Linked DNA regions of Homo sapiens. The protein of the gene in region 2 purifies or fractionates together with the protein of the main gene of each other region. This does not show direct contact. Each region holds a gene or a part of one and is shown on either strand. Other genes may lie near its edges.

Region 1 (3,647 bases), on a different chromosome or scaffold from region 2:
TCACTGGTGATGGCCTACTAGGGTAGGAGGGCTGGGGTGGGTGGCTTGAGTTGAGGCACAGCCGGAGTGGTCTCTCATGCGGGAGGCGTGTTTCATCTCTGAAATTGTTAAAATGCACTGTAGGAAGCTGACTGACAGACAATTTTATTGATTATTAAATTCTTAGATTATTAAATTCTCTACAGAGTCCTTTGCCTCCCACCGCCTACCTCTTTGGGTGTTTGGCAGGATCTCAGCTTCCCTAAAGATAAAAATCACCAGGAGTCTTAGACCTGCTGAATCATATTTTCCAGGGGAGATTTACAAGCATGCCAGAGGAACATCCCTTACCGGGGAAGTCTGCAAACTTTGACCTAGGGACTGACCTAGGGTATGACCTTGGAAGTGGACCAGTGTGGTAGGGGAGAGTATTGAGATAGTGAGTTAGCTCATAATAATATCCTTCTTTCCTGCCTGAGAATTTGAACAAATTCGAGACATTTTAGGTGGCAGATAGCACCTGAAATACTTTTTGTTACTAGTAACCATGAAGCCAGAGGATGTAGATTAGTATTTTAGGTGGCAACACCTGAAATATTACCTTTTATTACTAATAACCTCAAAGCCAGAGGATATAGATTAATATGAAATCCAAATGATCCTGCTTATTGAACCCCCAGATTCAGCAGTTACCCAATCAGTTGCAGGCAAGGTGGGCCAGGGTAGGTTGGTCTCTGGAAAAGCAGAGAACACCAGCTTCCTGCAAGTGGGCAGGTGAGTGCTTGCTTGCAAAAAGAAGGGAGAGCTAAGCTGAGCACACCATTTTTTCCTCTCAGTTTTACTGGTCAGACAAGCTCACCCCACCTCCCCTGGGGCAGAGAGGCCAAGAGCATTCGTTATACGGATGAGTTCCTCCAGGTGGAAAGAAACATCAGGAGTGGGGAAGCATTTTTACATCTAAAAGGAGATCAAGGAACTGTCAAATCCAAAATGTTAGATAGTATTTATAAGTGTTGAATCACCGAGAGTGATGACTGAGAGAGGAAGATGGAGAACCAGCAGCTAACATCTTTAGGGAGTCTTTAGGGAGTGAGGAGTGGCCTGGAGGTTGGTAGGTGTCAGCAGAAAGGCAGGGTAGTGGGAAGTATCATGTGAGCTATTTTTCAAAGGGACGCTTCTTTATGTTGTAATTTTTGTGTCCCTGTGTGATTAAATGTGTTCTCCCACAAGTCAGAAAGGTGCAGGTAGGCAGGGACCGTGTCTTTCTTGAGTACTCTGGCTTCATAAATACTTGTTGCATGAGTGAGAGAATGCGGTGACAGAGTGCTAAGCCCTAGTGTGTTGAGTCCACACGTGGATCGGGGTCCATGCAGTGACCGCCCCTCTTGGTTGGTGGGATGAGGGGACTCACGGAACTCCCACCTGTTTCCTCCCGTAGCCGACATCGGCCTGGCTGCCTGGGGACGCAAGGCCCTGGACATTGCTGAGAACGAGATGCCGGGCCTGATGCGTATGCGGGAGCGGTACTCGGCCTCCAAGCCACTGAAGGGCGCCCGCATCGCTGGCTGCCTGCACATGACCGTGGAGACGGCCGTCCTCATTGAGACCCTCGTCACCCTGGGTGCTGAGGTGAGGCCCACAGCTGTATCACCCCAGAGTCCTTGCCCTCCCTGGGTTCAGCCAGGGAAGAAGACGACTGTGCCAGGGTGGGGACCTTCCAGGTGTGGAGCTGACCGCGGGCCTGGAGGGGTTCCTCCCTCTCACTCGGTTTCCTCCGTTTCCCAGTGCTGCCACCCCTTGTGGTGAGTGTTCTGCAGATTTTCTCCCTGGCTGGGAAGGTCACTGTTGGCTACCCTCAAGGCATCCTCCTGATGGATGCTCTGGCAGGAAAAATTCAACACCCATGTCCTACTTAGTCTCTTAAGGGCCAGCTTGCCTTGGCCCTTCGGGGGTCACAGGCCTACCCTGGACCCATCATGGCTGCTGGATGATGGCAGCTCTGATTGGTTCAGCCTGGGTCATGTGTGCCAATGATTAACAGCTCTCCTAAGGTCTCAGAGAGTCAAGAAGCAAGCTGGTTTCCCAAAGCAGGGTAGGGCAATGGAGCCAAAATCCACAGAGGGGCTCAGGGCTGAGTCCTTGGACCTCTTCTTTCTTTTCAGCATTCACTCTTGGCGGTCTGATTTTATAGCTTTAGACACTATCTGGTGATGACTGTCACATTTTTGTACTAGCCTGGACTTCTCCTGGAACTCAAGACTGGCATATCCAGGAGCGGGGGCGTTGACGCTCCCTGGAGGTCTAGTACTCATCTCAGGCAGAACGCGTTCAAACAGACTCAGGATTTTCTGCCCCCTCTTCTTCCCAAAGCCTTCCCCACCTGAGTAAATGGAACCTCTGTTCCAGCCTTCTGGGTTCTCTCAATTCACGAATCTGGGAGTCATCTCCTCCCCTCCCTTTCCTCCCCACTCCCAACTCCCTTTACTCCAACAACTCATCCCTCTGCAAATCCTGTCAGTGCAGCCTTCAGAGTAGACCCAGGATGTGACAACTTCTCATCATCTCCACTGCTACTGTCATATTTCTTGTCTGGAGTCTTCTCCAACAGTCTCTGCAGTTGTCCCCTTGCTTCCACCCTTTCCCTTCCACACAGCACTGGAGTGAGGTTTTAAAACCTGAGTTGGATCTCGCCCCTGCTCTGGCTCCCATCTGCCCACCCAGCATCCCCAGCCTGTGATCCTAGAGCTTGCTGTGCCTAGATCCCAAGCCTCTCCCCACTACCCGAAGCTCTCCCTTTTCCTCGCCCAGCGTCCCTGGTGCTTTTGAGCCATCAGTGACCAACAGCCTTGTTTTGATGGCTCTTCTAGGTGCAGTGGTCCAGCTGCAACATCTTCTCCACCCAGGACCATGCGGCGGCTGCCATTGCCAAGGCTGGCATTCCGGGTAAGTCCTGCTTGCTTCTGAGACGTGGAATTTGTGAAGGGATTCTGCCCTCTTTGCTTCACTGACTGCTAGAGCAACAGACTTCCTTACATATCAGAAAGGGAGAGGAGTCACCGCCACAAAATCCTAGCCCAGCGACCCCACAGGAAAGAGCTGCTTTGTCCCATCATCATCTAAAATCCTGTGGAAGTTGTTTATTGACCCAGGTCAAGCCGTGTAACCAGGAAGAGCAAGATCTTATGATTGGGAACTACATGATGAAGCGGAGGGGAAGTTCATTAAAGGAAGGATGTGGATCTCTTTCCAAAGAACTGGGGAGGGCTACGGGGCAGAAAAAGAGGTTCACTGCCTAGGGTATGGCGGTCTAAAGGACTGAGGAAGGACCAAGTCTAACGAGAATGGAGTTTTCACAGGCTGGGCACATGTCTGCTTGGACTTGGGGAGGGGAGTGGTTAGATCTGACCCAGTGATTAGGACATTCAAGATTGCTTCTAACCAACCACAGGTGGACAGGAGGGGGTGGCACAGCACTCCTTCACAGACTGACCAGGGCTGAATGGGCATGATCCCCATTCCTCAGCCTTGGCACCGTGGCTTTCTTCTTTTTTTTTTTTCTTTTTGAGACAGAGTCTTGCCCCGTTGCCCATACTGGAGTGCAGTGGTGCGATCTTGGCTCACTGCAATTCTTAAGACTATTGTCTGCTCCAGTTGTGGGTAGAAGCAGC
Region 2 (3,647 bases):
CTCTACCACGCAGGCCCCTCTCAGCCCCCCCCCGCCTCCTTCTACCTGGGATGCTCTTCCCAGCTCCTCTCAAGCCTCCTTTAAGTCCCTCTCAGGGTCACCTCCTCAGAGAGGCCTTCCCTGACCACCCTGGCTGAAGCAGCCCTATTCTCCCCCTTGTTTGCCATGCTCACCATCTGCGGTTACCTTGCTTATTTCCTGACCAGGCCTCACACTGAAGGTCACCTGTGTGCAGCCAGGGGCCTCGCTGTCTCTGTCACTGCTTTATCTCCAGGGTCTGAGACGGCACCAGAGACCCAGCAGGTCCTCAGTCAACCTCAAGTCAAGTGGAATGAACACAGGGCCTGGCCACACTCCTTTGGTTTTGTGTCCTTCCTTCAGGCTTCCCAGGCTGGGTCTTTGAGCCCCAGACTCCTTCTGGCCCCCGACACTCATAGCCGGGCCAGTCTGTCTCCCATAGGGCAAAAACAATCCCGCAGAACACTAGCCTCAGGCCACGTCCCTCTGAGACCATGATCAGATGAGACACAATAAGCCCTCTTCCTGATTTTTTTTTTTTTCCTTGAGATGGAATCTTGCTCTGTCATCCAGGCTGGAGTGCAGTGGCGTGATCTCAGCTCACTGCAACCTCTGCCTCCCGGGTTCATGTGATTCTTCTGCCTCAGCCTCCCAAGTAGCTGGGAGTACAGGAGTGGGCCACTACGCCCAGCTAATTTTTGTATTTTTAGTAGAGACGGGGTTTTACCATATTGGCCAGGCTGGTCTCACACTCCTGACCTCAAGTGATCCGCCCACCTTGGCCTCCCAAAGTCCTGTGATTACAGGTGTGAGCCACCATGCCGGGCCTTCTCTTCATGATTTTTGTCTAAGCACGGACAAAAACAAGGTCTCTGTGCCACCCACAAAGCTCTGCACATCTTGGTAAATGTTCCTTTTTTCCCAGTCAGCCTCACCCCCACTTTCTGATGGCAGCCAATCCAGAGCTAACCGTGGCTTCCTTAAACCCTCCCCAAGTCACCCTGCCAAACCCCATGGGTTTCCTAACAGCATCTTACTGAGATGCCCTGTGGTTCCCTACGCTGTGTGTTTTCCCTCATTGCGCCGACCAGTGAACCCCACCTGTGCACTTCCAGCTGTTCGGGTTGTCTGGGGCCATTGACACCAGAGAGAGATGGTATCTGGGCCTTCTGGACTCAAGTGCAGGTTTCCCCTACTCTTGATCTTGAACTAGTCATTTTCCTTTTAGGACCAAAATGACCTTATTTCTGTAGAGAGGTGGCTGGTGAGGCCCGTCCTATGCCACGGTAGATGGGAAGTTTGTCAATTTCAAGTGCCCTTTGGGCATTAGTTGACTTTGTCATCATCATTCTTCTCATTTACAGAGGGGGAAACAGGCCTGAAGGGGAAGCCCCACAGCTGGGAGGTGGCAGGGCTGAGGCTCCAGCTCTGGAATGACTGACCCCAGCGTCCTAGCTTTGAGCCACCTGACCTCCCACCTTGTGACCCTCAGATGTGGTAGGGGGTGGTGGAAAGAGGTCAGAGGATTTGAGCAAGGAGTTCTTGAGACTCAGTGTCCTGGAATCAGGCACCTCACCCCCAGGGCCAGCCCTCCCGGGGCTGTGAGCTGAGCTCAGGGCAGCTCTCCAAGTTCATGGTCCACATCTTGGACATTCCTGCCCAGCCAGAGCTCTCAGCCCTTTGTGCCAAGGGGATCTCAGCTGGTTCACATTCTGAGACTGTGTTCTGGAATGTGCTGCCCTTTCAGCTTAGAGAGAGGAGTTTGGGTCTTTTTGGGATAAAGCCTGCCTTGTGGGAGAAGAAAGGGAGAGTAACGCTTTGCATGTGGAAAATACTTCAACGTGGTTTTGCATCTGTGTGTTTAAACTTCAAACAACCGCGTGAGTTCGGTGCGATTATTCTTACTTGATAGACGTAGAACCACGTTCACAGGAGGCAACTCACAGGCTCAAGGACACACAACCGTGGGACTGGGACTTGAACCTTGGGTTGTGGACCCCCAAGGTGGGTTTTTGTTGTTGTTTTGAGATGGAGTTTTTCGCTCTCTCACCCAGGCTGGAGTGCAGTGGCACGATCTCGGCTCACTGCAACCTCTGCCTCCTGGGTTCAAGCAATTCTCTTGCCTCAGCCTCCTGAGTAGCTCAGACTACAGGCACACATGCCACCACACCTGGCTAACGTTTAAAATATTTTTAGTAGAGACGGGATTTCACCGTGTTGGCCAGGCTGGTCTCGAACTCCTGACCTCAAGTGATTTGCCCGCCTTGGTCTCCCAAAGTGCTGGGATTACAGGTGTGAGCCACCATGCCCAGCCCAAGGTGGGGTTTTGACCCCCCACTTTCTAGTTGCATTGGATTTCAGGCTCTGGGTGCCCACCTAGGACCCCCTGTCGGAGGTAGAGGGGCTGGGGTCTGGTGGTGGGGCCGCTGCTGACCTCTCTGCCTCTGTCCCCTGCCCTTGTGTTCCAGCCTGCGGTGGAAGCACACCTCCTCCCTGAAGGTGGCCAACGAGCCCGTCTTAGCCTTCACGCAGGGCAGCCCTGAGCGAGATGCCCTGCAAAAGGTAATGGGAGGGTGGGAGGCACCCGAGAGGTGCAGGGCATGGAGCAGAGGCCATCCCCAGCAGCCCTGAGATAGCGCCCCGTGCCTGCAGCCATCACCCGCTTCTACCCTTGCTCCCAGCCTTGGGTGGAAGCCTGGGAGGGCTGTGGGTCTGGAGTGTGGGAACAGCTGGGAGGACCAAGGTGGCAGCCTGGAGCTACTCTGGGGCTTCTCAGGCCAGGTCAGATGTCATAAACCTAGTTGTTTTATAGTTAAACATGTTTTCCAGTTAATTGCCAGCATTTTAAAAATCATGAGATTTCATATAAGTTTCAGGTGCAGTTTTTTTATCTCTGTGTCATGGGTAGACCTCACCTTCCTGCAGGGTGACAATGGCTGGAGCAGAGTCCGGCTGTCCCCGAGGGCAGCACATGTTCTCTGATGGCCACCGACCTGGCCTGGCCCCCTTCTCATTTCTGTATTGCCTGGGCACCTCCGTCTGTGGACTCTGCGTTAGGGTTTTAGATGGGAGGAAGCGAGGAAGGCGGTGACCATACCCACTCTTGTCCCTCTCCCCAGGCCTTGAAGGACCTGAAGGGCCGGATGGAAGCCATCCCATGCGTGGTGGGGGATGAGGAGGTGTGGACGTCGGACGTGCAGTACCAAGTGTCGGTATGTCCAGCGGGTGGGCAGAGCTCAGCCCCTCCCCTGAATATGTGACCTCTTTCTCTGACAGCTCGTAAGCTTATAATGTGTGGGCTCTGACTTCAAGGCCTTTATAGTGCCCCTCCCCACCCCAGATTTTGAATTCTGTGGACCAGTAAAACTCCCAAAGCAAAGGACGGCACCCACACTGCATCCAGCCCATAGCGGCATCCTGTGTCTGGGCAAGAAAGGCCATGAGGGGGCCACACAGCATCTTCTGTTATTCCTCATAGATTTCTTGCCAAGGGGGTTTGGGAGCTAATGACAAAAAGCTGGGCCCCGGGCCCCGAGCACCTCAGATGGCATTGGCCTAAGAAGCCCCCATGCTTGGAGTTTATCCATCCAGAAACTGGCATGCACTTTACGTGGGCCAGGAAACTCATA

The links. Proteins that work in one complex are often made in the same cells at the same time.
Region 1: the proteins of ALDH4A1 (region 2) and AHCY fractionate together in Homo sapiens (co-fractionation; one large-scale study listed by BioGRID). This does not show direct contact.

What each region holds. Positions count from the first base shown.
Region 1 is NC_000020.11:34,293,356-34,297,002, reverse strand, and holds part of AHCY (adenosylhomocysteinase), read left to right. Parts: intron 1-1,417; coding exon 1,418-1,608; intron 1,609-2,846; coding exon 2,847-2,922; intron 2,923-3,647. UniProt on the Homo sapiens protein: Catalyzes the hydrolysis of S-adenosyl-L-homocysteine to form adenosine and homocysteine. Binds copper ions.
Region 2 is NC_000001.11:18,888,945-18,892,591, reverse strand, and holds part of ALDH4A1 (delta-1-pyrroline-5-carboxylate dehydrogenase, mitochondrial isoform a precursor), read left to right. Parts: intron 1-1,700; exon of another isoform or gene 1,701-1,898; intron 1,899-2,486; coding exon 2,487-2,580; intron 2,581-3,137; coding exon 3,138-3,230; intron 3,231-3,647. UniProt on the Homo sapiens protein: Irreversible conversion of delta-1-pyrroline-5-carboxylate (P5C), derived either from proline or ornithine, to glutamate. This is a necessary step in the pathway interconnecting the urea and tricarboxylic acid cycles.